Regions from separate parts of the Homo sapiens genome. Here region 2 is reported to be linked to region 1. Evidence: microRNA targets listed by miRTarBase, many of them from high-throughput screens and not tested one by one. Region 1 holds a microRNA gene; the other region holds the end of a gene's coding sequence.

Region 1 (17,431 bases):
AGGAAGAGAGAGAGGGTGGGGAGGTCCCAGACTTTTAAACAAGATCTCATGTGAAATAACTGAGCAAGAACTCACTCATCGCCAAGGGGATGGCACTAAGCCCTTCATGAGGGATCCATCCCCATGATCCAATGTCTCCCCACCAGGCCCCAGCTCCAACATTGGGAATCACATTTTGACATGAGATTTGGAGGAGGAAAACATCCAAACTGTATCGGCTACCATAACAAAGCCCCATTGTATGTGGCTTAGCAGTCAGGTGACAGGCAGAGGAAATTGGTAATGGAGACTAAAAACGTGGAGCTGATGCTAGTCAGTAGAAAAAAAATGTAGGAACTCTCACCTGTGATAATTTAGAAAAGGAACCACATGAGTACTGAGATGGCAGCTCAAGGGGAGTGTTTTAGAAGATATAAAGTAGTAGTATGGTTTGGCCACTATTGGCTGCAGTCAGCAAAGTACTATTTTAAAAAAGGGAGGGAGACATGCACACACTTTAGAACGAATTGGTACAAATCAAAGGCCACAGAGTCCAGAAATGCGAGGCGTTAAAAGATTGGAAAACCCACTGCATTTGAACCACAAACTGTGAGAAATGTGATATAAAATAGCCGTGAATAACAAATGCCCAGAAACAGATGATTCAAATGATTCGGGGCTAATATTGGATTTGGTGTGTTGCCATTAAGTTCAAAGGCATCCACAAAGAAATAAAGCAGTTTTGAAAGCCATATCTCAAACAAAACCTGTAGATGTTACTGGCAGATGGGACTAAATGCAAGCAAATACATGGGAAGTCTACTGAATTTTTGACAAAGTTGTATCTGTCTAAAAAGCAAGGAACTTAAAATGACCCTTGGCCCTCAAACTTCCCTGAACAGAAAGCTAGTAAGGAGGGCATATGCCACAATACCCACTTCAGAGGCAGCAAAGGACAATAATGGAAGATTAAGAACCTCCCAGAGGGTAGAGCCAGATGCTATACTGTCACCCAAAGGCAGGCTAATCTTGCATTTTAACATTTTTCTGCCATGCCCAAAGTATTGAAGAGTAGTATGAACTCAATTTGTGGTCACTGACAGAACTTCTGCCTCTCCAAGATATTAAGGAAGCCTTTTCCAAATCGTTTGAACTGCCCCGTAACCAGTTTTATTTGTATTGCACTTGAACTGCACAAGTATTTGTCTTTTTTTTTTTTTTTTTTAAGTTAAGATAAACCTTGATGCTGAGTTTGGTGGTAGTTATAGGCTGACAGGTTAGACAAGTCTTTTTGGTATGTGGGGAAAAAATGGAATCTGGAAAAGTACATTCTTCCCATCAGAATTATTGAGAAATCAGCTTGAAAAATAGCCAGGTTACTTGGGGTTCTGGAGAACTGAGGTGGGGTTGGGACAAGGGCCCCATCTTGGGTTTGCACAATGGTTGAACATGTCTCCATACAATGCAATGTGTGTTTAGTGAATGTCTAAATCAGTGGCGTTTTGGTGTAGGTGAGGGCCTTAGGTATTATTTAGCCTAGCCACCTACAATGAGACCTATTTCATCAGTGCTGTTAACACTTTGGCAGGGTACACACTCTTTCATGGATTACTTCCACTTGTTAGAAAAATTGTAAATGCACTGAGCTTAAATGTGCCTCCCTAAACCTTCTCTCCATGAGTCTAGGCCTGCACCTGTTTCAGCTCCTGTGTCTACATTTCTGAAATTAGAATCTGTCATCACTAAGTAGAAGAGCAGTCAGGAGGAGACCAAGTAGAAGGCAGTCACTGCCTAGAGAATCAGAGCAGTCTCCCCTTAGCCTGTTTCAGAGCTGTGTCCTCATTGTTCAAACAGTCCAATAGCCGAGGAGGAATTTCATAATAGCGGATCTCCTTTGCTTGCTTTTCTTGGATGCTCTAAAGAAGACTCATGTATTAGAGTAACCCTGCTTAAAATTCCCTTTTTCTCACCATTCCTCTCCCCTTGCTTACTGCAGCTTCTTTGGCAGCTTGCTCTGCCCAAAAGAAGATAGGAGACAGACAGACAGACAAACACACAGGCATACACACAGATGCGCAGATGGACAGACAATAAACTTTTCCTGGGGATGTGAAGGTAAGCAAACCAACAAAGTAAAGATTTATTTAAAATGGCCCCCATAAAGAAAGTAGAATTTATGATGTGATACTATTATGTAAAAGTATAAAAATTACTGAAAAAGTGGCCCATAAATATGAAAAGAACAAAAATAAAATTTGCTCCATTCCCTCAAGCCTGGCCAAAGCCTATTTTCACCTCTTTTGCTCAATTTTCTCCCAGTTCTGAATATAAAAGCCCAGAAAATCAGGGAGAGAAGCTCTTTGGAGCTTATCAGGGGTGGGAAGAGAAACTGAGTGGGCAGAACAAGAATTGTTTTGAGAGTGTAGGGAATGAGTGGGAACACCTCCTGCCTTTTGTCTATCACATGAGTGGAAGCACTTAAGGACAGCACAGAATCACACTTTATGTGTATCACAGCCTTAGAGAGATTGTGGCAGGTGTTGTACTGTTTCTCAGTTGAACACTTTGAAGCAGAGTTCATTTGTATATTCATGTATCCATCCAAATAGTTTTGAGTGCAAGGCACTGTCCCTGTATGTTATTGGTGGTCACCAATTACATGGCAGTTCTTTGGCTGGTTAATAACACCTTTATCTCTACTATAAAGATGATGATGATGATGTGTAGTGTGTGTTCAATTCTGTATTAGACATTGTAAGTTTCAAATATATATACACATATATACTTTGTGACTGGAGAGCCCTAAATAAGAGGGAATACAGGAGGAGAAACTTTAAGAAACAGAAGTTGGGTTCTGGGGAGTGGTACATGGTTCTAACATTTCAGTGAGAAACAACTAAAAGTACTGTAAGAATTTTATCAAGGATCTATGAAGTTTAATACATCCCTACAGCTAAACTCTCTGAATCTCTACCAAAAGCTCAATTTGTTGGACAGTCACTGTTTGTTGAGGACCCCTATCTTACATATCTTTCATTTCCTTCCTAATCCTCTCCTAGCCTAATGTGAGCAGATGCTTACTTGCTGTAGAACTTCAGAGCTACAGGTGGCTTTAAACACCAACACAGACAAACCCCTGAATTGTAGATGAAAATTCAGGAACCTGTCTGGACCTTCAGAATAGTTTCCTGATTGACTGTTCAGCCTCTAGCTCCCCAGGTGGTATGTAGCCCCTATATCCCTTCTAGCTTGGCTCATGTGTGTTCATCTGTCAAGTTTCAGGTGGGTGGCCCTAAATGAACTGACTCCCTCCTGAGGCCCAATCAAAGTTAGGTCTCCCTTCTAATTCTCCATCAAAGCACTCCTTGCATAGCATTTGCCACCACTTAAAATTAAACTTTAATTTTTGTGACTATTTTATAACATCTATCTTCTAACCAAGCTGTGAGTGCCATGAAAGCGAGAATTAGTCTGTTAATTCATCACCACATCGCCAGTGCCTAGCATAGCCCCAGCACAAAAGAGCTTGGTGAATATTTGTTGAGTAAATAAGTGGTTGGAAGGCACACACCCGAGCTGTCTTTGTACAACACAAATCTGTTTGTCTTTCTCCTGCCTAAATTCCTTCTTTAGTTACTCACTTTTTAACAGTAAAGAAAAACATGTTTTAGCCTGATTAAAAAGAGCTACCACAATTTGGCTTTTTGTCTAAGCTCCTCAGGTCCCTTCAGACCTCCAAGCCTTTGCATATGCTGTACCCTCAGAGAAATGCCCTGCCTGCTGTTTCTGCCCAAGTGGGTAAGCACCTTCCCTTCCATCACCTTCTTGGTGAAGCCCAGACTCTCCAAGAAAGGGCTAGTTGGTTGGTTCTTAATGTTTCCACAGTGCTTTGTCAGTATTTCTGTGAGAGTAGAAGGGTGGCATACTTTCTTTCCCAAACTTGTCCCTGAATTCCTTCCACTTCCCCCCAAGGCTGTTGTGAATAAAGGAGTGGCCGAGGGTGACACGCAGCCAATGGTTGGTCCACCAGCTGCCTCTGGCAGCTCCTTGTTGCTGTCTCTCCTCCCAGATCTGTCTCCTTTTATTTTCCTGGTCTTTCTTGTGATTTCCCTCTTTGTCTTTTGCAGGGTCCTCATTCCCAAATTTCTCTCCTATTATGTTAAGTGCACTGATATTGCTGTTTTTGTTTCTCCTTTGAGAAATATGATGCCTGGGAAGAGGCAGCAGCTCACATTGCACACCTAAATAGTTCCAGCAAGGCATTTTCCTGAATACAAAGCTTTTTCTCCTGAGGTGGATTCTGCTTTCCCCTAGCCTGCAAAAAGAAGGCAGTCAAGTTTCTGGCTTTAAATGGTAACTTTTCTTTCCTCTTTTAGATGCTTTAGAACCTAAGCAGAAACAAGTGTCTTTTATAAAGCCACTTCACTTTGACATCTCAGATTCTCAGCAGGCTTGGCAACAGTGGCTTGCCCATTCATCTCTGGGACCACTTTTGAAGCCAACTCTGTGAAGAGCTGTATGAACTCTATGAGGCTCTGTAAAGAAAGGCATCATTAGGAAGGAGATGTTCTTAGCAATGGCTCTGCAAAGTTTAAACTCCAGTTTCCTCATTCTGTATTCAGAACAATTGCTCTTAAAGTATTCGCTAAGGACAAGCATTTTCTTACTCCCATACTCAACAACATGGGAAAACATGGGAAAAAACCAAGCCCTCCTAATGAAGACCAAGCAGCTGGACCTGCATTGCTCTAGTGTTACCTCTGTTTGGGGTTTCCTCTATTGCTGGGAGGCCAGACACTTAGTTGATTAACTTTGTACTTAATGAATAGGGTTGTCATTTTTCCAGCTGTTTCTAGGAGAAACTGAAACAGGATTGGAGATTTTGAAAATTTGTCACCTCCCCCCACCACCAAAAAAATCCCAATAAACTTGTCTGTGGCCTCTTTTTATCATTTCCATCCTTTCTTTTGTGAAGTCCAAGGGATATGAAGCAGATGGAAAAGAGGATAGGCACAGAGAACGTGTGCACAGATATAATATGGGTAAATTCTACTAACCAAACAAGCAAAAACCAAGCTTTAATTAATTCAGTTACATTTAGATCTAGTGCTTTTTTACTGAAACAGAGCCACTGAGAAAATATGACATGATAACACTTAGTAAAACCTCTGAACACATGAAAGTCCTTAAAACAGGATTAGCAATGGATAATACTACCTTACATTTATATAACACTTGGCATATTTCAAAAATGTTTCATGACCAGTGAAAGACTGAATGTCACATTATTTGGGAAAAGAAAAAAGGGAGGATGTTTCTATTACAATTTATGGATAAAGAAGTAGTTTTGGGGTCCAAGGTCATATGATAACTTAAATAAGAAGACCCTCTCTGTGGCAATTAGCATTATTTTAAAAATTGTCAACAGATACTAGAGAGCTTTTTTTTGAATTAATCTATCTTACATTCTATCCCGATAAATAAGGAAAAACAAATCATTTGAAGAAGAGAAAAAAAATTTCTGTTTCCCTTGAAATGCATTAAGTGTAACTGTAGTCATGAGAATCTGAAGATGCAAAATCTGAAATTAGCCAATATTAGAAACTCTGAGTACAAACTTAAATTGATAAGACTTAAACAGTGAAATACACTTTTTGTGTACTTTTAGATTAGTATGCCAATTTTGATCTGCATCAAATGATCGACATTTATGTTGCATTTACACATACATTTACAAACACTATTCTATTTAATCTCATTTTTTTTTTGTAACTGACAAATTTGCTTTTATGGAAAGAGACTTCTGGAAGACAAAAAAAAAAAAAAAGGATCCAGAGGAACCCACAAAACACCTTTACACAAAGTCTAAGACCACAAAAAGGCCTTACAAAAGACCCTTATTACCCAATTCAGGGCATGGGCAAGGATGTATAGGAAGACATACTTAGCTATGAAGACAAAGTGTTTCAAATGAATGGTTATAGTAATCCATGATTAGCTATTGGGTAAAACTTAGGCCCACTTAATTATAGATGGATAAGGGGATATGTACATTTCAGCATTCTATATATGACTCGGAGATTTATGAGAAACCAATTCCCCAAGCTTTTAATATTAGTGAACAATAGCTATCATATACCTATATCAGTCACTCATGCACACATTTACCCCATCCCAACCACAAAAAGACATTTTTTCATTTATCCTCTCAACTTGAATTCTATCTAAAATCCCTTGGTACCAGAGGTTGAAAGCATCAGGTACTAAGTCATCCTCCTTGCTAAAATTAAGCTGTCTCTGTATACACAAATGGTGACAGCTGAAATGCACTCTGGGTCTCTGCTAATAGATCCTCCATTTAGATCTTGGACAACTGAAGGCAGGGCATGTTGACCAGGGATCTTTCGGCTCTGGAATCTCCTGTCTGTCCTGGTCTATCAAAGCTCCACTTGCCACCTTTCTGGGCTTGGTGCCAACCTTGTATTTTTAGACAAATAGAGTAGTACTCTGAAGTTGGAATTCTAAAAGTGTGTCTTTTTTCTTAAAAAATTGCTTTATTCAGAGCTGGTACTAGTTGTTCTCAATCATTTAATGTATTTTATCACCTTAAACTAATTATTTATTTAATGGATTTCTCCAATTTTTAAAATTATGCCTATTGCAACATGCTCTGGGCATGAGTACAGAAAATGAACACATTAATTATAATAAAACATTCAAGGGCTGAAACAAATGAAAAGAAGAGAGTTAACACAGGCTACTCAACATCTGCCATACACATATATACATATAGTACCTCTTTCCCATCCAAAATGCACCTCTATAGTCTCTAATACCTGCCTGTTGGGAGCTGGCTCTGCTTGAAACACTTTGGTGAGAACAGGCAAGAAAATGATGGCGTCGTGGTAGTGTTCTCGCATTCTCTTCACAGCATTGGCTGCCGCCTCTGCTACCCTCTGAAATGCCTGTATATCACCTCTCAGAACATTTTTAGTTTCACACCACAAATAAGACGAACATTAATTATAGGTTGGAAAAGGGACTGGAATGCTGTGGCGGCACATTCCATTTTAATAGAAAGGGTCTGAGGGAATGTGCTGTGCACCTCCAAGCTTGCTCTTATTGTTGAGTACTCCTTTTCTTTTCCCATGTTATTTTTTTCTTAGCTTTTGTTATTACTTTTAATTTATGCCACTTTAAGATCTTAAAATTCTGTGAGTGAGTATGAAGATAACATATTGTATGAAAAGGAATATATTTTAAAATATGTTTTTGACACATTAGAACCTTAATTGTAATCCAATTTGATGGAGCAAGGATCAAACTTCTTGACCCATGATTTGATCAGCCAAGTGGTTTATCTGGGAAGACTTGCTTTAGATATAAAAGGTGAACATTTCCCTCTTAGACTTACATCCCTTATTTCCAACTTGCTATTTAATTTGGATAAAGTTCTTGGTTATTTTACATGTGCTGTTGAATATCTTCAAAACCAAATGGGTTCACTTTCAAAATAGTAAAATGTAAATTTGTTCTCTTAACACTCAGCCTCACAACATTCATACTGTAACATTTTATGTTATTTAATATGGCTTTTAAAACTTACATTAGTAATGTGCTAATGAGACCTTACAGGCTTTAATTCATTACAGAAGATGCAATAAAGACTAATATGAGTAGAGCTTCCTAGGCAACCAGGAATCAGATTTTTTTCTAATGTAAGAAAACTGGTCAATTTTCTACTCTATTGATGTTTGCCATTACAGTAATGAAGCAGGTTACATTTTCTTTGTAATAAGATGATTAATTTGGTTATTGACTTTCTGTTTCAATTTCATGTTTCATTTAAATGATTTGAAAATACAGGTTCTGTATTTTTCCACTACATGCTTGGGTCAGATGTAAAACATTTATTCTATTTGGTTCCCAACTTTAATATCGGAGAGGAATTTTTTTGTTTTTTTCATACTTAGAAGCCATTACACAGATAAAATTATCAATTGAGATTAATAGCATAGAATGTCACCCAATACAAAGGGAACTGGGTATTCATCTCAAAACTTGAATTTGAATGTGGAATCATACAGATAGAAAAATTCTGAGACAGCAGAAGAACAAAAAGTCATCATCTTTTTGTGTGAGTCACTTTCTCCTGAGACCATACCCTACATTTTGGAGGCAGATTGTTTTTTTCAAGCCAGTTACTTTATAGAGATGGGAGAGTGTAGAACTTCAAAATGCCAATGCACATGACCTTCTGATTATATGGACTTGTATAGTTTTCTGAATGTAGGTCTTATACTTCCATAAATTGATGGTTCCTCGAGAACAGATGGCATATTTTATACATCTTTGTATGATACCTAGCAAAGAGCCCTGCACAAAGTAGGTGAATAACAAATGTCTCTGTTAAATAAAGTACCATGAGAAGCATAGATGAGAGAGAGGTAAGGAATGAGGTAAGAGGTTCCAAGGACATGTCTATAAGTAGGTACTTATATTTGTTGTGTACTTTATTTTTATTGAAAGACCCTCTCTAAATCCAAATAGTCATCTACTCAGGTCTGTGGGATACAACAATTCCCCGATTACTTGGCTTAACATTCCTTCCTGCAGAGCCACTATAGGGGTAAATCAGGGATGGTCAAGAGGATTCATTCCTTATACCAACCAGTTATGTAGAATTGGTGGTGATCCCTTGGGCTGCAGTATGGAGAAAGCAGCTCAGACTATTCCTGAGCCCAGTGAAAAAGAGGACAAGATGGCCATCTATGAGCTGGATAATCAAGACAGTCCTGTCTGCTTGGTAGCACGACCCTTCTCCAAGATTTGCCCCTCATCCTTCTTTCAAAGCCCAGATCAAATTCTGCCTCTTCAAGATGGCTTTTCAGATCCCCACCTTCAAGCTAGCACCCTCCCTTTCCTGCTTGTATAGCAAACTATTCTAGCCTTTATTCTCATATTTGTCATAGTCTCCTCATCCATCTATTTCTCTCTACCTACCTAGTTATTCATGTCAATTCCACTAGAGTAGTTTCTCGTGGGGAGGCAGGGATAATCTCTTTCACTTTTCTGTCTCCTATGTGCCCAGTATAAATGGGCTTTACTTATAGGATACGCTTCATAAATGACAATGAAGGAAACTGAACAGCAGACTGATTGATGGAAGGTCACCCAACAGATCATTACAGTGATAAGAGAAAACTGATGGTATGTTAGAGAAGTAGAATGTTCTGTCACTGCAGATTGACCCTGATCTACAGCTAGGGAAGAACTGTATGGGATTCCACAGACAATGAGTATCAATGGCACAAACTCATTCTTGAATTTTTGCCAGTTCAAGAAGAGACTGAGTCATCGAATGCTCTAAATGTCACTTCACCTCATGTTCTGTCAACACAGAGGGTAACTCAGAGTGGCCAGTTCCACTCAACCATCCAAGAAAACAAAACAAGAAAAGCAGACATTAAAAGAGGGCAGTGTTCTGCACTTCACAGGTCTGTGACCTTGGCCAAATTACTTAACCTCTGTAAGCCTTAATTTCTTCTTCCTGTGTAACATGGAGATGATGGTATCTACTTACAGGCAAGAGTTGAGATAATATATGCAAAATTCTTGGCATGGTAGAATATTAATTGAACTATGAAGATGATTGTATCCACTATTCCCTTTTCCCTTCTTGGCTATTTCATTTCCATTCATGTTACTTTGTTTTATATATACACTGCTTTACTGTGTATGAGAAAAATGACTGTCCACTGGTAGAAATATAGCCTGAGGTTTTTTTTGTTTTTAATTCTCTCTCTCTCTTTTTTTTTTTTTTTTTTTTTGAGATAGAGTCTCACTGGAGTGCAGTGGTATAATCTTGGCTCACTGCAACCTCTGCCTCCCGGGTTCAAGTGATCCTCCCACCTCAGCCTCCCAAGTAGCTAATACTACATGTGTGTACCACCATGCCTGGCTAATTTTTTGTATGTTCAGTAGAGACAGGGTTTTACCATGTTTCCCAGGCTTGTCTGGAACTCCTGACCTCGGGTAATCCACCTGGCTTGGCCTCCCATGGTGCTGGGATTACAGGCACAAGCCACCGTGCTGGGCCTTTTTTAAATTATCTAACCCTAGCCCCTGAATTTTTAAAACCACCATGGAACATCACTGGAATGAAAATGGAGACCATGTGACTTCTTCAGCTTTCCAAAGAAAACAGGTTTACTGATTATACGCAGCTAGAATGGTTGGCATAATTGTTATGAATGACAAACCCTTCAATTCATTGATGTGTATGAGTCAGTGATGTTGGGATAAATGTCTTTGGATACACATTACACAGTGCTCCCAGATGTTTATATTCCTTCCCACTCCCTAACCTAATCCTAAAATATTAGCTCTCTAGACAAGAGCATAAACTGAAAACTCATATTTGCTCTTAGGACTCTTTACAATCATTTTCACATGTGATTATCTTGGTGTGTACATAGAGTGGCCATCTTTGTTTACAATGAAGACGCGAAAGCCCAAAGGTTGGCTAATGTAACCATGGAAACCAAGCTAATAAATGGTCAAATCTGTACCAAGAATAATTCTAGAGACTTCAGTTGCTTCAGAGATGGATGAGGTAGGAGTTTTTCTCAGAGGGATGCAGGTCTGTCTGTGGTCGCTTAGTTGGGTTGATTCCCACATAGTATTAATGAGCATATGGAAAGATAACAAAAGCAGCTAACACTTATTGAATACTAAAGTCTGAAGTAGCGTGCCAAGTACTTTCAGGCATTATCTCTAATCCTTATCACAAGTATATGAGGTAGGTACTATTATTAGACCCACTTTCTAAATGAGAAAATAAGCTTGGACTAGTAAGTAATTTGTTTAAGGTCATTCAACTAACAAGTGGCAAAGGATAAAAGTTAAATTTAAGTTTACCTGACTCCCAAGTTCATATTCTTTTTTTTTGAGATGAAGTTTTGCTCTGTTACCCAGGCTGGAGTGCAGTGGTGCAATCTCAGCTCACTGGAACCTCCGCCCCCCGAGTTCAAGTGATTCTCCTGTCTCAGCCTCTTGAGTAGCTGGGATTACAGGTGCATGCCACCATGCCCGGCTAATTTTTGTATTTTTAGTAGAGACAGGCTTTCACCATGTTGATCAGGCTGGTCTCGAACTCCTGACCTCGTGATCCACCTGCCCCAGCTTCCCAAAGGCGTGAGCCACCGCGCCCATCCCCAAGTTCATATTCTTAACTAACACAGACATTGCTTCTATCTCTTAGTCACCTAACATTGACTCTTTCTGTTTCATGACCAGATCTTATACTCTGATTTTTCCCCTGCTTTTGAAGAAATAAAGGTGGGAGGCAGTGGAATGGGGAAGACAGGGAGAGGAAGAGGTTGGGGAGGGAGGGATGGCTCATTCAGTGATTGTGTGCCATCTATATTCATTCATTCCTACTATGTGCCAGGCATCACACTAGATGCCAGGTCTCAGCTGTGATAAAAAATAACTTTCTTGTTCTTATGAGGCTAAATGCCCCAGGGTCCTACACCCACTTCTCCTAGTCAGTCAAATGTGTGTGGGCTTTTGAGGGGACAAGGGTGCCATGCTGTGGTATCACCCAAAGCTTTCTCTAGATAAGTGGATGTGAGAAAACCCAACAGCTGAGAGCAGCTCAGAGAATGTTTATGGAAATATGTAACTGTTTCTCTTAAAGCCAATCCTGAGTCCCCTGTTTTGACTTTGGGTACGTATAATGTACTACATACTCCCTTCCCTCTGTGTGAAGCAGATCATATTGCAGCCCTGAAGTTATGTGTGGCTGTAGTGAAGCAGCAGGCATAACACTCTGCTGTTGGCTGGTAACTGTTTCCAATAACAGACAAGCTGCATCAATGCAGGGTTTGGAATGCAACGTAGGACATAGCTAGGGGCCTCCTTGTTTTCTGTCACTAGGGTGGAGGGGGCCCTAAGGCAGGGCCTGGGTGGGCCTCTCTTCCTAATAACTCTTCTAATGAATCTCATAGCTGTCCTGGGAATTAGTTCTACCTTCTTCCTATCCATGGTAGGATTGATTTCCTTAATAGCCAGTGACTGCCTGTCATTAAGAGCTCTGGGACAGGGAAGAATGGGGACAACCACAGACCTCCTCCCTGCAAAATATGTTCAGTGATTGTGACTCACTGCATCATCTGGCCCCATAGAGCAATTTTCCAAATATTTCTCCTCAACATCTCTTTCCATCAAACTAAAATGTCAATTTTTTTTTAAAGCTCTGATTAAAGGATAAACAGTTTCATAATGGGATTTGAAAGCCTGGGCAATCATATCATTAAAAAAAAATTGGCTGCCAAGCAGCTTGCTCAAATGACACCAGGCACATTGCCTAGTGAACTTTAGGTGAATAGGCGATGGAGTCTGTCTGGGCCTGATTTGCAGAGACTTCTTAAAGAAGGGAATCTGCTGCAGGCATGCAAACTACAGCAAGACTGAGCTGTGCATGGCTAGTTTTAGGGAAGGCTCCAGCTTGGGGAGCTTGGAAGGTGGTCTTTATCAGCCTGCCAAGATATCTGTGTGGAATCACGCCCACCATTTCTTCTCCCAAAGAGACAGATGAACAGACTCCACTATGACCAATGCAATATGGTGAACAGATGTTTGCCTCACACAGCTGAAGTGAGCTGGCTTTCCAGAGATTTAAAGGAAGGAGAAGGTGTCTTGGGAACAGTGTTCCCAATATTATGATCCCAATCATAACTCATTGCTACCACTCCAGGATAGGGGGGCAGGGGCGGAATATAGTTCTGTGTCATCCACCAGTGGCTCCTCCGGGTCAAAATCCAGATCCAAGAGAATGTAATTCATGAAGCGATATTTACTAGATAGCTTCACCTGGGCTGACTGTGACATCACTAGCATGTTTAACCCTTCATTTACATTTACTTATCCACACTCTACCCTGACTCATATCCTTTGTTTCCATAATAAACTTTTAGCAACTATTGACATTCATCTTTCCCTGAGCTCACCTTTTTCCTGAATTGACCCCAACAACCTGTGAGACGGCCAAAGGCTTTTGCCTAGTCTTTGAGTCAGCTGAATACACAGATGCCTGAACCTATGCCAGTGCATCTTTATCATATTTGTAGTCCACCTGCTCTTTGTTTATCAGCTGTCTGTACACACATAAGATAACTCTGCATTCTCCTTACTTGAGTTGCATCAGTCAGTAGTGTCTTTTGTTACTGCCTAGGGTGAGCAAAGAACATTACCTATAGTGAATGAGGAACACCTTTGTTCATGCCACAAAATCCATTTTGTCTTTTTTAAGAATGCACCTCACTTTAAGTAAACTTAATATATGAAAATTTAGATTCCAGTAAGAAAATTCAAGTTTCACATAGCTTTTCAGGACCTCACTTGGCTACACAGAGCAGTGATTCTCAAGGAGGTTGATTACACCTCCTCAGAGATGCTTTAAAAATTTGTGGGCTGGGCACGGTGGCTCACGCCTGTAATCCCAGCACTTTGGGAGGCCGACATGGGCGGATCACGAGGTCAGGAGATCGAGACCATCCTGGCTAACATGGTGAAACCCCGTCTCTACTAAAAATACAAAAAAATTAGCTGGGTGTCGTGGTGGGCAACTGTAGTCCCAGCTACTCAGGAGGCTGAGACAGGAGAATGGCATGAACCCAGGAGGCAGAGCTTGCAGTGAGCCGAGATCATGCTGCTGCACTCCAGCCTGGGCAACAGAGCAAGACTCCGTCTCAAAAAAAAAGAAAAAAATTGTGGTGGCATTTTTGCTAGTCTGAATGATTGAAGTGATGTGACTGGCATTTAGTGAGTGGGCCTCAGGGAGGCTAGATAGGATAGTTTTATACAACAAAGAACTGTCCCAGCAGGCATCCTAGAGTCTCAAACTTAACTCTTTCAGACATAATAAAAAATATTGTATACAGGTTTAATATAGTCTAAATTTTTCAGGAATGCAACTACTTTATAAATCAAAGGAGATTGTATTTGATTTGTTTGGAACTTTACCAAGAGGTTTTCATCATTTGGGGGAAAAAAAATCACATCATGGACAGCAATGCAATAAGAGGTTTTCAAGTGTCCAATGTAACACACCTGCATCCATCTGCATTGGGCTGTGCATTCATGGTAATACTATTAGTATTAGTAATAGCAATATCCATGGTAATAAACTGTGTCTTTTTTTTTTTTTTTTTTTGAGATGGAGTCTTGCTCTGTCACCCAGGCTGAAGTGCAGTGGCGTGATCTCAGCTCACTGCAACCTCCACCTCCCAGGTTCAAGCGATTTTCCTGCCTCAGTCTCCCAAGTAGTTGGGATTACAGGTGCATGCCACCACACCCGGCTAATTTTTGTATTTTTAGTAGAGACAGGGTTTCACCATCTTGGCCAAGCTGGCTTTGAACTCCTGACCTCATGATCCACCCGCCTTGGCCTCCCAAAGTGTTGGGATTACAGGCATGAGCCACCGTGCCCAACCTAAACTGTGTCTTTTAAAAACTGTCTTCTAGTGTTGTCATGCCTGAGGATTTTACTGATGAAATGTGTTATTTTATTACAAATTACTTTTATCTCTCTTTCATATTATATATAGAGTACTTATTTTAAAAATTTTGTATTGGTTATATAATCTATAAATTTCTGTGTAGGATTGTAAAGAAACTGTTATTACCTTTTATATATACAAAGAGGACTTTAGGTTTTATGGAGATGAGAACCATTGGCCTAAAGCAACATCTGTCAACTATTCAGACAGAAACATTTTCCATTTGCACAAATAGAAGTGATTTCCTCTGTGCTAGATGAAAACAGTGGGGCCAAGATTTTCAACTTGTGTTATGGAAAGTCTGGAAAATGTGCTCTATTCAACAGGACTTTAATTTAGTCCGCCACTGATCAAACAATTCCTTTCTATGCCTAGCTTATTTTCATTCCAATATTTATTGATTCTATCACTGTGCTGGATATTGCAAGGATTAAACAACTCAGGGCCCTGACTATCTGGAAGCATAGACTGCCCTCTCTTGGAAGGCAATCTGCATGAAGAAAGGCATACTTCACAAACTTGGTACCCACAACTTTGACACCCAGGGCATCAAATGATGTTTCTTTTGATGAAAATTCTGAAATGCCCCTGAACCTTTCTTACAACACCATCAAGGTAGTTAACATGCAATGCTGGGGTTCTCTAAATCACAAATATCAGGTGGCCGATAAGGACTATATATTCTAAAAGAGAAGAGGAACGAATTGACTTAGAGGAGTAGGAGGAGGATGGGCTTTGGAGTTGGGTAGATCTGGGTTCATAGCTTGGCTCTACCACTTACTGTCTTACCTTGGGAAGGCTCAATTTCCTCCTCCCTAAAATGGTCATAATACCATCCGCATCACTAAGCTGATTTGAGGGTTAAATTAAGTCATAAACATAAAGTCATGGGTAGAACACCTGGCATATAAAAGGGACCAGACAAAATGTGTGAATCACCATCATCCCCCTTTCCTTGGGAGCTCTTAGATAAATCCTAGGACATGAGAATCAAAAGCGACCTTAAAAATGATCTAGTCAAATGCTCCACTAGACTACATAAATCTTCCTCTGTAGATTGTGAATGAAAAACTTCAAGCCTGCATGTTTTCTTCTCTTGATCAGTGTTAGCTAATTCTATTTTGGTTACCTAAATATCTTAAGAGTTGTAGAAAACAGAGATATAGATCAATGGAACAGAACAGAGCCCTCAGAAATAACGCCGCATATCTACAACTATCTGATCTTTGACAAACCTGACAAAAACAAGCAATGGGGAAAGGATTCCCTATTTGATAAATGGTGCTGGGAAAACTGGCTAGCCATATGTAGAAAGCTGAAACTGGATCCCTTCCTTACACCTTATACAAAAATTAATTCATGATGGATTAAAGACTTAAATGTTAGACCTAAAACCATAAAAACCCTAGAAGAAAACCTAGGCATTACCATTCAGGACATAGGCATGGGCAAGGACTTCATGTCTAAAACACCAAAAGCAGTGGCAACAAAAGCCAAGATTGACAAATGGGATCTAATTAAACTAAAGAGCTTCTGCACAGCAAAAGAAACTACCATCAGAGTGAACAGGCAACCTACAAAATGAGAGAAAATTTTTGCAACCTACTCATCTGACAAAGGGCTAATATCCAGAATCTACAATGAACTCAAAGAAATTTACAAGAAAAAAACAAACAACCCCATCAAAAAGTGGGCAAAGGATATGAACAGACACTTCTCAAAAGAAGACATTTATGCAGCCAAAAGACACATGAAAAAATGCTCACCATCACTGGCCATCAGAGAAATGCAAATCAAAACCACAATGAGATACCATCTCACACCAGTTAGAATGGCAATCATTAAAAAGTCAGGAAACAACAGGTGCTGGAGAGGATGTGGAGAAATAGGAACACTTTTACACTGTTGGTGAGACTGTAAACTACTTCAACCATTGTGGAAGTCAGTGTGGCGATTCCTCAGGGATCTAGAACTAGAAATACCATTTGACCCAGCCATCCCATTACTGGGTATATACCCAAAGGACTATAAATCATGCTGCTATAGACACATGCACACGTATGTTTATTGCAGCACTATTCACAATACCAAAGACTTGGAACCAACCCAAATGTCCAACAATGATAGACTGGATTAAGAAAATGTGGCACATATACACCATGGAATACTATGCAGCCATAAAAAATGATGAGTTCATGTCCTTTGTAGGACATGGATGAAATTGGAAATCATCATTCTCAGTAAACTATCCCAAGAACAAAAAAGCAAACACTGCATATTCTCACTCATAGGTGGGAATTGAACAATGAGAACACATGGACACAGGAAGGGGAACATCACACTCTGGGGACGGTTGTGGGGTAGGGGGAGCGGGGAGGGATAGCTTTAGGAGATATACCTAATGCTAAATGACAAGTTAATGGCTGCAGCACACCAGCATGGCACATGTATACATATGTAACTAACCTGCACATTGTGCACATGTACCCTAAATCTTAAAGTATAATAATAATAAAATAAAAATAAAAAAAGAGTTGTGGAAAAATATGAAAACATTCAAACTTTAATTTATTGAAATTACAATAAACTCATCCCCTCTGCAACCATCTTCCTCCATCTGCCTAACCAAATAGCATTGAGTCATGTAAACAGAGTGAGTGGCCAGCTCAGATGTGATATCTACTGTTATCCATTTCTCTTTTAATATTTGAGTGCTCAGCATGTTAAGCCAAATTGCTGCATAGAATATCCCCCAATTCTTCTGTGTATTCCAGCTTGAAGTAACAAAGAATGAAATAGAAGAAACAAATTTATTCTTTGTGTAAATACAAGATAATTTACAGTAAAATTCTTTTAAAATTCCTCAAAGTCCACCCCAAACAGATGGG
Region 2 (15,031 bases), not on the chromosome of region 1:
CACCCCTTAAAATATCCTTGGTAAAAGCTTGCCAATCTAAGTCTGCTAGACTGAGGCCCAGAGTCCCCTGCCTCCCCTGACCACTGGCAAACCAGGATAACAATTGGGAAGTTCAATTCCTAGTTTCTAACAGTGCTTTTGTTTTCTCCTGGCCTACTACAAATATGTCAAACAGTGTAATTAGATTGAAAGAACAACCACAGTGGCTTCCCATTGCTCTCCTTTGCAGGTAAAGCCTTGGAAAAGGCTGGGGGAAAAGAGTTCTTGGAAACGGTAAAGGAGCTTCGCAAATCCCAAGGCCCTTTGGAAGTCGCCGAAGGTAAGTGTGGAACTAGGCTCCTGTCACCAGCATGGCCTCACCCTCCTCTCTGGAGTCTCCAGCCTCACGTGCCTCATGCCTATTCAGCTTATGAGTCAAAGTATGCCATAACTAATCAGAAAGCTGTTTTAGCATCTCAGGTAATTTGGGCAGGCCCATAGAGATCCTTTCAGATGTCCTGGGGACTCCAATATGTTTGAATAATTCAAGTCAGTTTGCATCAGATCCCCCAAAATGGTCTAGAGCCATTGGGTGAACTTTGCATGTGTGTGATAAAATACACACACCATAGGACTTACCACTGGAACTATGTTTTGTTCTTTTTTTTTTTTTTTTTGAGAAAGAGTCTCACTCTGTCGCCCAGGCTGGAGTGTAGTGGCATGATCTCAGCTCACTGCAACCTCTGCCTCCCAAGTTCAAACGATTCTTGTGCCTTAGCCTCCCGAGTTGCTGGAATTACAGGCGCATGCCACCATGCCTGGCTAGTGTTTGTATTTTTAGTAGAGATGGGGTTTTGCCATGTTGGCCAGGCTGGTCTCAAAGTCCTAACCTCAAGTGATCCACCCGCCTTGGCCTCCCAAAGTGCTGGGATTACAGACATGAGCCACCACACCCGGCCACTGGAACTATTTTAAAGCGTATAATTCAGTGGCATTAAGTACTTTTACAGTGTCGTGCAGCCATCACCACCACCTAGTCCAGAGCTTTGATATCACCTCACACAGAAACCCTGTTGGGTTGATCGGACTCAACACCAGGTCATGGGGGTGACAAAGTCCAGCGGAGTCAAAGGAATGAGAAAAGATAGTTTGAGAGAGAAAGTGGGTCCAGGGGGCTGTCACTAATGTGTGGCGGTTGTGAAGGCCCCGAGCTCTGGAAGCCCAGGCTATTTATTGGTGATCAAACAAAGAAACAGGTGATGAGGATGTGGGGGTCGAAAGGGCAAGCGCATGATCTACAGCTGTGACAGTTTAGCATTTCCTTTGAAGCATTTGGAACATATTCTGCTACTTGAGATAATGGAGAGCAGGTTCTTTTAACTCAAGATACAATCGATCCTGGGAGAGCAAGGAGCAAGAAGCCAGCAAGTCTAGACACATTCAGAGCCACGAGCCCTGGATTCTATCCAAGCCACGAGGGGTTTTATGCCCTGGGCTTAGATTATGGTGTGTCAGGGTGGCCTTCCACCCTTTGGCACAGAGCTTGGTGTTCCAAAGGCCACAAGGCGTTTTCGAATCTGGACCCCGGACATGTTCCAAGACTCTTTTACATTACGTCAGACATGCAAGCCCTGCCTCAGCTTCTCTCAACACTTAGCTTTTCCCCCAACAAACCCCCTAACCATTAAGCAGTCATGCCCAGTGCCCCCCTCAGGCCCTGGCAAGCACTAATCTACTTTCTGTCTCTACGGATTTGCCTATTCTGGACATTTCATATAAATGGGATCATGCAATATATGACTTTTCTGTCTGGCTTCTCTCACTTAACATTTTTTTCAAAGTTCATCCATACTGTAGCATGGGTCAGTACTTATTCCTTTTCATGGCTGAATAATATTCCATTTTGTTTAACCGTTCATTTACTGATGGACATTTGGGCTGTTTCCGCCTTTGGTGATTGTGAATAGAGCTGCAGTGAACATCTGTGCACAAGTTTTTTTTAAACATCTCTTGTCCAGGATATTGGGCAACTTTTTGACAGGTGGATTCAACCTCAGATCCATGTTCCCACCCACATGACTCCCAATCAGTTCACTCCTTGTACCCTCAGTCAGTGCCAAGTGCCGCAGGGCTTCAGAGGAAAATAAAACCCACCGCTGCCCTCAGATGCATAATTGGGGCACAGAGCAGGAGCCACGACCTCAGCGTAGGGGAGCGTGGGAGGACTGCAGTGAGGCTGTGAGACCCCTTGGGGGTGGGACACAGAGGGCAATAGGAGCACTGCATGCAAGAAGACGCTTGTCTTGCATGAGCAGGGAGTCTTGGGTCAGCACGTGGGAGGAGAGAAACAGCAGCCAAGATGAGTCTGGGCCTGTGGGCTGTGCGAAGGGGTCTGGATCTGACCCTACATGGACATGAGGGCACTTGGAAGTTTAAGCAGGGGGCTGTCCAGATTAGACTTGATTGTTATAAAAGTAGGGCCCAGGTACTGTGGCTCATGCGTGTAATCCCAGCACTTTGGGAGGCTGAGGCAGGCGGATCACGAGGACAGGAGTTCAAGACCGGTTTGACCAACATGGTGAAACCCCGTCTCTACTAAAAATACAAAAATTAGCCAGGCATGGTGGCGCATGCCTGTAATCCCAAGCTACTCAGAGGCTGAAGCAGGAGAATCACTTGAACCTGGGAAGTGGAGGTTGCAGTGAGCCAAGATCGTGCCACTGCACTCCAGCCTGGGCAACAGAGAAAGATTCTGTCTCAAAAAAAAAAGAAAAAAGAAGAAAAGAAAAAAGTAATGGGGGCTTCTAGTCCAGAAAGAACAAGAGCCCACACTTTAAATCTCCACCCACTACTCCCCACAGGCAAAGCAGTAATAGATGCAGTGTCTCTTTAAAAACCCTAAGAGCCACACTCAAATATAAGATAAGCCTCCATGTAGACAGAGACAGGAGGGCTGCAGCAGCACCTGCAGGATGCTGCCGCCCCAGGCCTCGGCTCCAGGTCTATAAGATGCAGAGTCGCTTCACTTTGTATCAGAGTATAAAGAGGGCCAGAGCCAGACTCACTGCCCAAAGCAAGGGGCTGCATGAGACTCTCGCGGCCTTTACAAGAAGCCAAAGCTCTCGCCACCACCCAGGGCTACAACTTCTATAAAAATCTGTCTTTCTAGGGTAGCAGAAGGGAGAAGAGAGCCCCTCACCCAAGCCCAGGGCCACATTGCCCACCGACTCAATGTTTGGCTCTACCACATCCCCGATATAACCATGAGACCAAGCCCCAACTCAGTCATCTAAGACGGCATCAGGACTGGGGGCCTGGGTGTGGGGAAGGTTCCCCAGAAACTGCCTGATAGGGTGCAAAGGAGAGGAAAAATAGCTGCTCTGCACAGAATGAGAAGCTCCAACACACTTCTTTTTTAAATTATTTTTTAAATAGAGATGGGTTCTTGCTGTGTTGCCCAGGCTGATCTTGAACTGCTGGGCTTAAGTGATCCTCCTGCCTCAGCCTCCCAAAATGCTAGGATTACAGGTGGGAGCCACCGTGCCCAGCACCAACACACTTCTAAACAGAGTTCCAAAGGCAGAAATAGAAAGTAGAAAAGCATTATTTAAGGAGATCGTAGCTGAGAATTTTCTAGGATGAAGCATGAGCCCTTAAGCTGAAAATATCAAGCAAAATACATGAAAATAAATCCAAAACCTGGAGTGTTGTGGTAAAGCCTTAGAAATTGAAAAATCAAAAGAAACCTTCAAAGTAACCCGAGAGGAGAGGCAGATCATTTGTAAAGAAATGATGGCTCTTCTACTGACAGCAGACTTCTCATCAGCAAAAAAAAAGATGTGTGGAAACAGGAAAGAAATACCTTCAAAGCACTGAAGGGAAAAAAAAAACTGTCAACCAAGAATTCCACATTTTGCTACGTTGTCATTCAAGAATGAGGACAAAAGATGTACAATTTCAGACGTGCAGAAGTTGAGAGGCAGCAATCCAGACACTAGCTGGAAAGAATACAAAAGTCTGCACCAAGGAAATAGACATGAACCTGGAAGGAAGGAGAGGGCTACAGGACACAATTTTGAGCTAAGACATTGGTGCAAATATGTTAGGTGTAAGAAGCCATGGCCTGGGGCCAGTGAGTGTTAGCACCCTGGGAAAAATGGAGAAGGGGAGATGGTTCGCCACTGTCTAACACCACACTGCATTTCATTTAAAAACACCATCAGTTGTTAAGATATACTCTTATTGTATGTAACATTAAGAAAAAATAAATTTCCAAAATAAAGTGTCTAATAGGAGGCCCCACATAAAGCTGGGGCACATTAGTATAACAGCAAGCAAGACATGAACCCACCACGCAGAAAGGAGGAGCAAATATCTTGACCTTGGCATCCAGTGGACAGAGAGGAAAAAAAAAAAAAAAGCCTCACTAAAGAATTTGGCCAGGCATGGTGGCTCACGCCTGTAATCGAAGCACTTTGAGAGGCAGAGGCGGGTGGCTCACCTGAGGTCGGGAGTTTGAGACCAGCCTGACCAACATGGAGAAACCCTGTCTAGTAAAAATACAAAAATTAGCTGGGCGTGGTGGTGGGTGCCTGTAATCCCAGCTACTTGGGAGGCTGAGGCAGGAGAATCACTTGAACCCAGAAGGCAGAGGTTGCAGTGAGCCGAGATCACGCTATTGCACTCCAGCCTGGGTGGCAAGAGTGAAACTCTGTGTCTAAAAAACAGAAAAAGAATTTGAACCGCAAGCCAGTGCTCCTGAAGATTTGCAGCCAGATCCAGTGCAGCTCAAAACCTGAGGCAGAGAAGAGAGTGAGACATAGCCTTAGTTTGGTAGTGTCCCCAGGTGACATAGAAGGAAATGTAATTTCTTTCTGGAAGAACTCAGCTCCAGGCTGACAGCAGTTCTAAGATGCTTCCTGATTTCAACAATATTAAAATATTTAAACAAAAAAAAAGTGCATCTTAACATGGTTAAAACAGACCAACTGCAGTGCAGGCCCACCCTGTGGCAGGGGGTCGGGGAGGGTGGATCAAGAAAATATTTCAGGTGCAGAGTCAGTGAGAGGCAGCGATGCTGCATGTTCAGGGAGGCAGAAGCTGGAGCTAAGGTAAGTCCAGGGTTTCCAGGGCTGAGCAAACTGATGAAAAGTCAGGACTTTCATTCATTTGTTGAATATTGGAGCACCTGCCTGCCAGTGACTGTGGCAGGAGCCAGGCAGCAGCAAGGAATACAAAAGTGCTTCAGTGAAGATGTCAGCTGGGGCAGAACCAGTTCACGTTAAGCATCTACGGTGTGTGCTGTCGGGCGCAGGCATCAGGATGTGGATGTGATTGTAGGCCCTGAACACTCCTGAATTTTACAACCAGGCGGGGACCCCAGGGTAACACAGTACATCACTTAGCACAGCTGGCTGCTGAATTGCATGGCAGAGGCCCGGAGAGAATGGGCGAGGGAGTCAGGGACAAAGGAGGATAGCCAAGTGTGGAGACAGAGGTGCAGCCAGACCCATGTGTGCAGGGGACTGAGCCCACTGGCTGGAGGACGACTGGGCATCCAGAAAGAGCAAGAAATGGATAGACTCCAAGGGGAGAGGGGCCGACCATGAAGGGAGCCTGGGAGGACTGCAGTAAGGCCAGGGGGCAATCAGGAGCAGTTGCAGATTCTGAGTTTAAATGTGGAGTTTAAGGACCTTGGCTCCAGCAACCGTGTGGAGGATGGTTTGGCAGACAGAGGGCTGGGGCCCGAAGACCATCAAGAAAGCTGTATTGGATGAGGGTGGGGGTGGAGTGGGGGTGAAAATGAAGCACATGGGCCTGAAATGAGACAAGGCAGAGGAAACTGATGGTGTCTGCAGTGACAAAGAGGGAAAAAGGGGAATCGGGTTTCAGGAGTGAATGGCCATTTTACTGGGCACGTGTTAGCCCTGGGGCCCCAGAAAGGTCATGAGGTGCAGGTCCCTGTTGAAAGCTAAGGAGGAAAATGGCTTGCAGATGGCTGCTTAGGAGGTGGGGCTGCAGCAGAGAGAAGAGCACTGGGCCCAGACACGCAGGAAGAAGAGAGGCCATTGTGGGAAACTGAGGTGCTGTTAAAAGAAAACCCACAGTGTCACGGAAACCAGGCATCAGCAGTAGCAGCCTCTCAGCAGGACAAGGGGCCAACCTAGAGTCCCCTTTTGCTGTGGTGACTCCCAAGAACTGTGATGGCTCACCTGGGGGAAGGTTCTAGAAGCTCCCAGCAGCAGCACTGCCACCCTCAGAATGCAGGTCTTCACCAGGCAACATCACATTAGGTAAGAGAATGCCCCTAGTCATTATGTGGATAGGTGCTTATACCAAATACCAGGGTCACAGCCCTTGCAATAACTTGACCCTCATCCTTGACAACTCTGGAGAACATTACAAAGCATTATGGCTACAAGCTGTGTTATTCATTTCCAGTTGCCATGAACATACTTTGTTTTGGACTGAAATGTCATCGTGCACTACCCTGAAAGTCATTTTTTACTTGATTGGATGTTTGACATTGCCAATAGGAACATATTCCTTTTATTTAAAAATGACTTTTGGCTGGGTGCAGTATAATCCTAGCACTTTGGGAGGCCGAGGTGGGTGGATCACTTGAGGTCAGGAGTTCAAGACCAACCTGGCCAACATGGTGAAACCCCATCTCTACTAAAAATACAAAAAATTAGCCGGGCATGGTGGCGGGTGCCTGTAATCCCAGCCACTTGGGAAGCTGAGGCAGGAGAATCGAATCGCTTGAACCCGAGAGGCAGAGGTTGCAGTGAGCTGTGATCGAGCCACTGCACTCCAGCCTGGGCAACAGAGGGGCATCCTGTCTCAAAAAAAAAAAAAAAAAAAAGACTTTACATTAGAGGAATACCATTCTGCTAGTAACATGATTATACTTTTAAAATATATGAAATAAATCAGCCATGACTGTAACAAGCCAAACTCTGTCCGGCATACAATAGCAGCCAGGTGCTCGGGAAGATGGCACCATGCAGGCAAGGCCCATCTCCAGGGTCCTTGGTTCTCAGCAGAGCAGCCTCCAGTTTTAGGGGCATCATTGTTCAGTCCAAAGAGGGACACTCTGCTTCTGGTGCACAAATATACGTGGTCGTAGAGTCAGCACGCATGGCGGGCCCCTACCCAGGGCCTCGGTGTATTGTGTGGCCTGGGTCCTGCACTCAGGCGTTCACGTGTGATGACACTGAGCCCCGTCTAGGCACTGGAAGGCAGGGAGCCTACAGCCTCCCCTGATGGACGAAGGGGTCCCTTGGATTTGGCTTCTACCCATGTGAGGAAGTGCAGTCAGCACTTCCCTGACACTGTGGACATTGCCAGGAAATACTTATATAAACTAGGTGGGCATCATAGATTTCCAGTCAGTCTTTCACCTCAACCCCACACACAGCTCTGGAATACGGCGGACACACGTTTCTGTTACAAGTGCTGCCCCTAGTGGCCACGGACCCTTGCTACGCCGATTCCTGGGTTCCTGGAGGGGCACAGGGCGCAGACGGGCAGCGTGGGGGCAAGCATGGCTCATGGCTGAAGCTGCAGCTGCCTCAGGCAGATCCGAGGGAACTGCTCCCCTGGGGAGTCCCACAGGGACTTCCCTCGAGCTTAGCAGCCACGGGGCTTTATCAACTCTGTCACCAATGGGAACCACATTTAGGGGAGTAAACAGTAAAACAAAGGAGTATGACAGAAATTGTGAGACAAGGCTGGCCTAATTCAGTTTCACAGCCCGCTTTTGAAACCCCACTCTCTGCAGGGCATGTGGAGATCATCAAATGGCAGTCCCTGTCAAGGAACTACACAATCAAGTTCAGTGGTTCTCAACTCATAGAAGGTCCTAAAATCACATAAGCATAAGCCCCTGCACCAGACCTACTGAGTCAGGACCTCTGGGTGGTCAGTACCCTGACTCTGTGGGGCCCAGGCACAGCTATTTTTTAAAAGCCACAGTAGGCCAGGTGTGATGGCTCACGCCTGTAATCCCAGCACTTTGGGTGCCTGAGGCAAGAGGATCACTTGAGCCCTGGAGTTCAAGACCAGTCTGGGCAACATAGCAAAACCTCATCTCTATAAAAAAATTTTAAAAATTAGCACATGCCTGTAATCCCAGCTACTCGAGAGGCTGAGGCACTAGAATCACTTGAACCCAGGAGGTGGAGGTTGCAGCGAGCTGAGATCGCACCACTGCACTCCAGCCTGGGCGACAGAAAAAGACTCTGTCTCAAAAAAAAACTAAAAATAAAAAAATAAAAATAAAAGCCACTGTATTCATTTCCTGTGGCTACTGTAACAAATTACCACAAAGTTCGTGGCTTCAGACAACACAAATTTGTCTTCTTACAGTTCTGGAGGCCAGAAGTCCACAATGAGTTTTAAGAGTCTAAGATCCAGGTGTTGGCAGGGCTGGTTCCTTCTGGAGGCTCAGGGAAGGATCCCTTCCTTGCCTTTTCCAGCTTCTAAGCTGCAACATTCCTTGGCTCCTGGCTGCATCGTTCCAATCTCTGTCTCCTTCATCCCACGGCCTTCTCCTGCCTTTGACCTTCTTGCCTCCCTCTTATCAGGTCCCAGGCTCACCCAGACAGTCCAGGATCATCTCCCCATCTCAAGAGCCTTCACTTAATCACATCTGCAAAGTCCTTTTTGCCATGTACGGGAACACCCACAGGTTTCAGGGAGGAGGACGTGGATGTTTTGGGATGCCATTACTTTACCTGCCACAGCCACCAGAGAGGATCTGATGTGTCCCTTTAACTAGGAACCATTGTGAGGAGGTAGCCCAACCCAGGGACTACTTGGCAGACCATATGAAAATGGCGCATCAGAGCAGCATTAAACGCTTCTACCCAAAGCTTGTGCTAACTGTGCAAAGCAATACAGCCCAGCTCTTGCTCTCGTTAAACATAGTCCACATCAGGAGCACAGGATGCTGCCCAGCCAACGTCTCTATCACTGCCTTATCTCCAGATCTAACAGGTACCTGATGAGGTTAGGCTATAACCTAGGAAACCTTAGGAAATAACCCGCGGCATTTTCTCTCCTATGTCCCAGCCGCCGTCAGCCAATCCAGTGGACTCGCAGCCAAATTTGTCATCCACTGTCACATCCCTCAGTGGGGCTCCGACAAATGTGAAGAACAGCTTGAAGAGACCATCAAAAACTGCCTGTCAGCGGCGGAGGACAAGAAGCTAAAGTCCGTCGCGTTCCCGCCTTTCCCCAGCGGCAGGTAAGATGCAGTTCCCCTGAGTTGATTCCTCCGGCTTTTTCCCTGGAAATCAGCTGCTCCCCCACTTACATCTGATCTGGGTGTTGCCAAGGGCTGCCAGCACAGCCAAGTATGCTGACCAGATGACAGGGCAGGAAACCCGGTTTTCATCCTTCAGAAACCATGGGGAAGCGAGCCCACTGGCTCCTAGGCAGCAGGTCTTCCCCGGCTGGGGCCAGCCCCAGTGCCTCCTTGATGTTAAAGCCCCAGGAGGAAGGCTAGCCCAGGGGAGGAGCGGGAGGCAGAGGCCAGCTGGTGTGTTATTTTTTGAGAGCCTTCCAGGTTCAAAGTCCATATTCCCACCAGCTGTCCATGTCCAGGACACATGATCAGAAAACGCCAGGCTCGAAGGCCTTGCTACTCAAAGTGTGGTCCATAGGCAGCAGTGACCGATGTCAGAATGCAGAATCTCAGGCCCCCCATCTCCGACCTCTGGCTCCAGAATCCCCAGAGAATTCCGTTGCTGCTCTGGGAGACTGCAGAGCCAGGAGTTCGAGGCTTTGATGAATACACCCAGAGAAGTGAAAATCTGTCCCCGAGTGATTGCTGAAAAGGAGACTGGGCAATGACTGGATTGTCACAGATCCCAGCTGGGCATTGTTTCAGATACATAATGAGGATATCTGCTGTCACATAAAACATATCCTTTCCCTTCATGCCCCTAGCCAATCTATTGCTTTAATTTTGAACACCCTCTCACCTTGAGAGCTGTCCTTTATAATATAGCTATGGTTTATAGCTGTGTCCTGGGAAGCCCAAGAGGAAAATAATGAGACCTAGGTTCCTGCTGTAATCACACATCAACCTAGGCAAGCAGCATTGAGTCTCAGCATTCCAGGCCCAGAGATGCTGTGAGATGCATTCTTTCGTCGGTGGAACCACGGCAGTGCTGTTCTGTGCTGGAATACATGCGATTGGGAAGAATTCCTATTAACAGGCCCCTCCTGGACCTGCTCCAGGGGTCTCTGTGGCTGACCCCTAACGACCATTCTGGCTGTGTCCCTGGAAGCTGGTGCTGTGGCCCAGCCTGGTGGATGGCACTATCAGTAGCTCCCTGGAACCTGGGGCCTTTAACAAACTTTCATTAACCCCGCCATGCCCGGAGTCACAATGCTGAAATTACATGGGCCTGTGCCTATGAAATATTAAGTGCATAAAAAAGGACTTACGAAGACAGGTTTGGAGCATACATTTTTGCCCTTTACTAAGCAATTGGGTTAGTATATAAACCAGTTTGGAGGGAGCTAATAAAACTTCTGTTTGCTTGTTTGAAGACCAGGTATTTTTAATGCTGAATGGCTAGCATTTTTAAAGCCAAGCTTGACTTGGTCAGGTGACATAGAATCAAATATAGGGAGCTGGCACGGTGGCTCACGCCTGTAAATCCAAAAGCTTTAGGAGGCTGAGGCAGGAGGATCATTTGAGGCCAGGAGTTCGAGACCAGCCTGGGCAACATAACAAGACCCATCTCTACAAAAAATTTAAAAAAAAAAATTTTTTTATAGGCACACGCCTTTAGTCCCAGCTACTGAGGAGGCTGAGGCAGAAGACAGATAGCTTGAGCCCAGAGGTTTGAAGCTGCAGTGAGCTATGATCACACCACTGCACTCTAGCCTGAGTGATGGAGCAAGACTTTGCCTCTGAAAAAAAAACTAATTTAAAAAAAGTATAATAAAAAATAAAATACAGGGCACTCTTCACTTGGCCAGCCCTGTGACCTTGACTAAAATCATTGTGCTTGGCAGGGCACGGTGGCTCACACCTGTAATCCCAGCACTTTGGGAGGCCGAGGCAGGCGGATCACCTGAGGTCAGGAGTTCAAGACCAGCCTAGCCAACATGGTGAAACCCCGTCTCTACTAAAAATACAAAAATTAGCCAGGCATGATGGTGCGCACTTGTAGTCCCAGCTGCTTGGGATGCTGAGGCAGGAGAATCGCTTGAACCCGGGAGGTGGAGGTTGCAGTGAGCTGAGATCGCGCCACTGCACTCCAGCCTGGGCAACAGAGAGAGACTCCATCCCAAAACAAATAAATTAATTTAATCAAATTAAATCATTGTGCCTCTCCGAGTCAGTGTGACACCTATAAAGTGGGGGCAACATGCCCCACCTGCCACCCCCAGGCTGTCCCTTTGGCTAGGGTCAAAGGAGATCATGCATGGACTAGCCCTGCACACAGCAAGGCCCCACCCAGTAAAAACAAAGGCACTTCATGCTCCCATGGGTCCCAGGGACCAAAATGACATCGGCTCTTCTTTTGCTTTGGCACAGAAACTGCTTTCCCAAACAGACTGCGGCCCAGGTGACCCTCAAAGCCATCTCAGCCCACTTTGATGACTCGAGCGCGTCCTCGCTGAAGAACGTGTACTTCCTGCTCTTCGACAGCGAGAGCATCGGCATCTACGTGCAGGAGATGGCCAAGCTCGACGCCAAGTAGCCGCCGCACTTTCCAGCAGGGATCGGAGGACGACCCGAGTCCCAAGAGTGGGGTTTTGCTTTTTAAAAGGAGAGAGGAGGGGTGATGGCAGGGGAGTGGAGGGTGGCCGGGCAGGTCCTGCCGGCGCAGGGAGCCCTCTGCCCTTCACACTCTCCTCCAAAAGAGCCTCCATCTGTAAGGAAGCAGGTCTCCGCGAGGGGTTTCTTTCCATGTGTTTTCCTCCTGTTGTTTTAGAACTTTTTTAAAAAAACAGACCTCGTTTTAGATTTATAGCATTGACTTTTACACACATTCACACAAGAAAAAAATCCTTTCAAAATTCTTAAATCTTCTGTTCCTCCTTTTTCCAAGGGAAGAGGGCAAAAAGTGGCCTGGGCTCTGTTGGTGTGCGTGTTCCGTGGCGGAGAGAAGAAAATGGGAAAGACATCTCACTGGTGCTTTTCTCTTTTGTTTTAGTGCCCCCCGCCCCCATCCCTATAATATCTGTAACTACTCCTAAAAAGGTTTTGATTCAGGCTTTTTTTTGGTTTCATTTTGTTTTTTTAAGAAAAAGAAAATGAAAGGAAAAAAATAAAAGATCCAGTGTCTTTCTTACAACATATTCTTTTATTGCAACATTTTCCTCAGTTTGGAAAACTGTGTCCCCACACGTAGGTCCTTCTAGAATATTGTAAGTCAATAGAAGAAGGCCTGTCGCTCACACACTGGGATTCCCACCTCGCTGGACCCCAGGTCAGATAGCACCAGGGCCTGTGTTTCTTAGGCCGAAGGTCCTGCCTCCAGGAAGGTGGGCTTCCCTTCGTGGTCCATAAAGAAAGACAGATACTTGGATGCAACCACCAGGGGAACAGCCATCCTCCAATAGAGGCACACGACTCACTTAGGCCTGGGCGACAGCCCCAACGGGATGGCCTGAGAACCCCAGAGAGGCTGGTGTCCCAAGGACTCTGCCCGAGTACCCAGAGGCCACCATCAAAAGGGAGCAGGGAGGGGCAGGGTGGGGAGGTGGGGCCTGAATTTCTTCAGATGAACTCATCAACCACTTCTGCTATGCAGATTTAACCCAGGCAGTCCAAGAGGGGCTCCTCTGGATTGGAAGATCTCTCCCAAATAGAGGAATCATTTATACACTGTAACATAGTCGGTGGCAGACATTAGTGCCCAGCTGGGCCTCCAGACAAGTGACCCTGGGGTTGGCCAGGAAACCAGAAGCACAAAACCACAAAGTCCCTCAAGGGCCCTCTCCCCATTCCCAGCATCAGCTGGAGTTTTGTCACTTACAAATCTGCCCATAAGTAACCTAGAAATATGCTGGGGGTCACCCGCAGAAACCCCCTCTGCTCGCTAATGGGTAAGCAGATGGCACCCCGCAAAGAGTCACATTATCTGCCCTTCCTTAAACACCTCCAATGGCTGGCAGGCCAGGCTGCAGTCTCAACCCCTGCTAGCCGTGTAAAAATGCACTCTGTCAGGGTGGGGTAACCAGAAGAGCACATTTATCTAGCTCTTTCTTCTTAAATGAAACCTGTGGTATGGAGTAGGATCTAAAAGTGGAAATGTGCTGGCCGCAGTGGCTCACGCCTGGAATCCCAGCACTTCGAGAGGCCAAGACGAATGGATCACCTGAGGTCAGGTGTTCGAGACCAGCCTGGCCAACACAGTGAAACCCCGTCTCTATTTAAAAAATACAAAAATTAGCCAGGCATGGTGGCACGTGCCTGTAGTCCCAGCTACTTGGGAGGCTAAGGCAAGAGAATCACGTGAACCCAGAAGGCGTAGGTTGCAGTGAGCTGAGATCGTGCCACTGCACTCCAGCCTGGGTGACAGGGCGAGACTGTCTCAAAAATAAATAAACAAACAAACAAATAAAGTGGAAATGTAGGAAGGCCATGAGGCTTAAGGAGCACAGGGATTATGCACCTGTTAGCAAATTGAAAACAAGGCTCCTGTGAAGTCCCTGGTTGTTGCAGAATGTATGGGCTCCCCGACCGTGTGATGGCAGAGATTTGGGGTGCTGGGCCTCTCTCCACCTCAGGTCCCTCCTTTGTTCTCAATGTGCAGCTCTCCTTCCTGCCCTCACAGACAGACACTGGCCACCAGAGCCCAGCAATCTGCCCTGCTCTGAGAGCTCTAAATGGCACGCGTCATGACCACAAGCACGTACACACACATGCACATCCCAGAGGAGGCAGGTGCAGAGGAAGGGCTGGCTGTGGCCTCCCCAGCACCATGCAGCCAGCACACATGAGCCGCTCACCCAGTACCACAGCAAGCACACCTTCCAAACCCAGAAAGTATCCTCTAAGGGGGGTATTTGTTTAATACCTCTCTCTCTCCCATTTTTGTTTTATACAAGTTGCATTTCTAGCCACCACATCATTGGCATCTTATTCCAGAAGAATAGCATTAGTTCTAGCACTTGCCAGGCGGGTGCCATGCGCCAAGCAGTCCGTACGCCCACCTGCTGCGGTAGTTCTCCCGCCTGGCCTCTCCATCAAGGTGGAGACTGCCTCATGGTTTTCCAGCTCGTAGAGACGAACAGGTCCCGGCTCTTGGTCAGCCGAACCATGAGCCGGCCCACATAGAAGCCACTGATTTGGCCCACACCGTCATTTCTCCCCATGGACAGGAGGAACGTCAGTGCACCTGCAAGCAGAGACACAGAAACAACCAGAACCTCACTGAACCGCCTGGGGCTGCACCTCCCAGAGTGCCGATCCTTCCCGAGGCCTTCAGACTCAGGGCCGGAAATGTGAAATCGCTTTAGGAAGGTGGGTGAGACCCTGATTTTTTTTTGTTTGTTTTTTTGAGACAGAGTTTTGCTCTTGTTGCCCAGGCTGGAGTGCAATGGTGTGATCTTGGCTCGCTGCAACCTCCACCTCCTGGGTTCAAGCCATTCTCCTGCCTCAACCTCCCGAGTAGCTGGGATTACAGGCATGCACCACCACACCTGGCTAATTTTGTATTTTTAGTAGAGACGGGGTTTCTCCATGTTGGTCAGGCTGGTCTCGAACTCCCGACCTCAGGTGATCTGCCCGCCTCGGCCTCCCAAAGTGCTGGGGTTACAGGTGTGAGCCACCGCGCCCAGCCTATTTTTAAAGAGCTCTAAGGGGATGTTTCCATCACCAGCTTGGAGAGTTTGTTCTAGTGGCCAGGTATGGGATAGCCCAAAAAGGCTTCCCCATGTTTAACCCCAAACTCTATTAAAACTGCAAAGCACATGGGGCCTCTCTTACCCGGCTTGTAGGCCTGGAGAGGCCGCTGCTTCACAGAGTTGACGATGTTGGCCACGGCGATGTTGGCGTGGAGGCCGGCAAGATAGGCCA

The links. The annotated mature microRNA hsa-miR-5197-3p reads AAGAAGAGACUGAGUCAUCGAAU and lies in region 1 at 9,320-9,342, shown strand. An mRNA with a match to its seed (bases 2 to 7 or 8) in the 3' UTR can be bound and repressed. Matches are read on the target gene's strand: a 7mer-m8 pairs with bases 2 to 8, a 7mer-A1 pairs with bases 2 to 7 and ends in A, and an 8mer does both.
Region 2: miRTarBase lists AIFM2 as a target of hsa-miR-5197-3p. Seed matches in the 3' UTR shown: 7mer-m8 at 13,190-13,196 and 7mer-A1 at 12,385-12,391.

The regions. Positions count from the first base shown.
Region 1 is chr5:143,670,604-143,688,034 of GRCh38, forward strand. It overlaps MIR5197 (microRNA 5197), which reads left to right and starts at 9,257; the gene lies at 9,257-9,368. LOC105378210 (a long non-coding RNA gene) reads left to right here. Exons shown (of 3, transcript XR_944377.3): 3 at 1,976-5,806.
Region 2 is chr10:70,099,979-70,115,009 of GRCh38, forward strand. It overlaps AIFM2 (AIF family member 2), which reads right to left. Exons shown (of 9, transcript NM_032797.6): 8 at 14,942-15,031; 9 at 12,293-14,351. The coding sequence ends at 14,200. MACROH2A2 (macroH2A.2 histone) reads left to right here. Exons shown (of 9, transcript NM_018649.3): 7 at 230-319; 8 at 9,055-9,229; 9 at 11,540-12,304. The coding sequence ends at 11,705. Among named protein-coding and RNA genes, the nearest start is that of AIFM2, 25 kb to the right of the region's middle. RefSeq lists an enhancer at 7,508-7,587.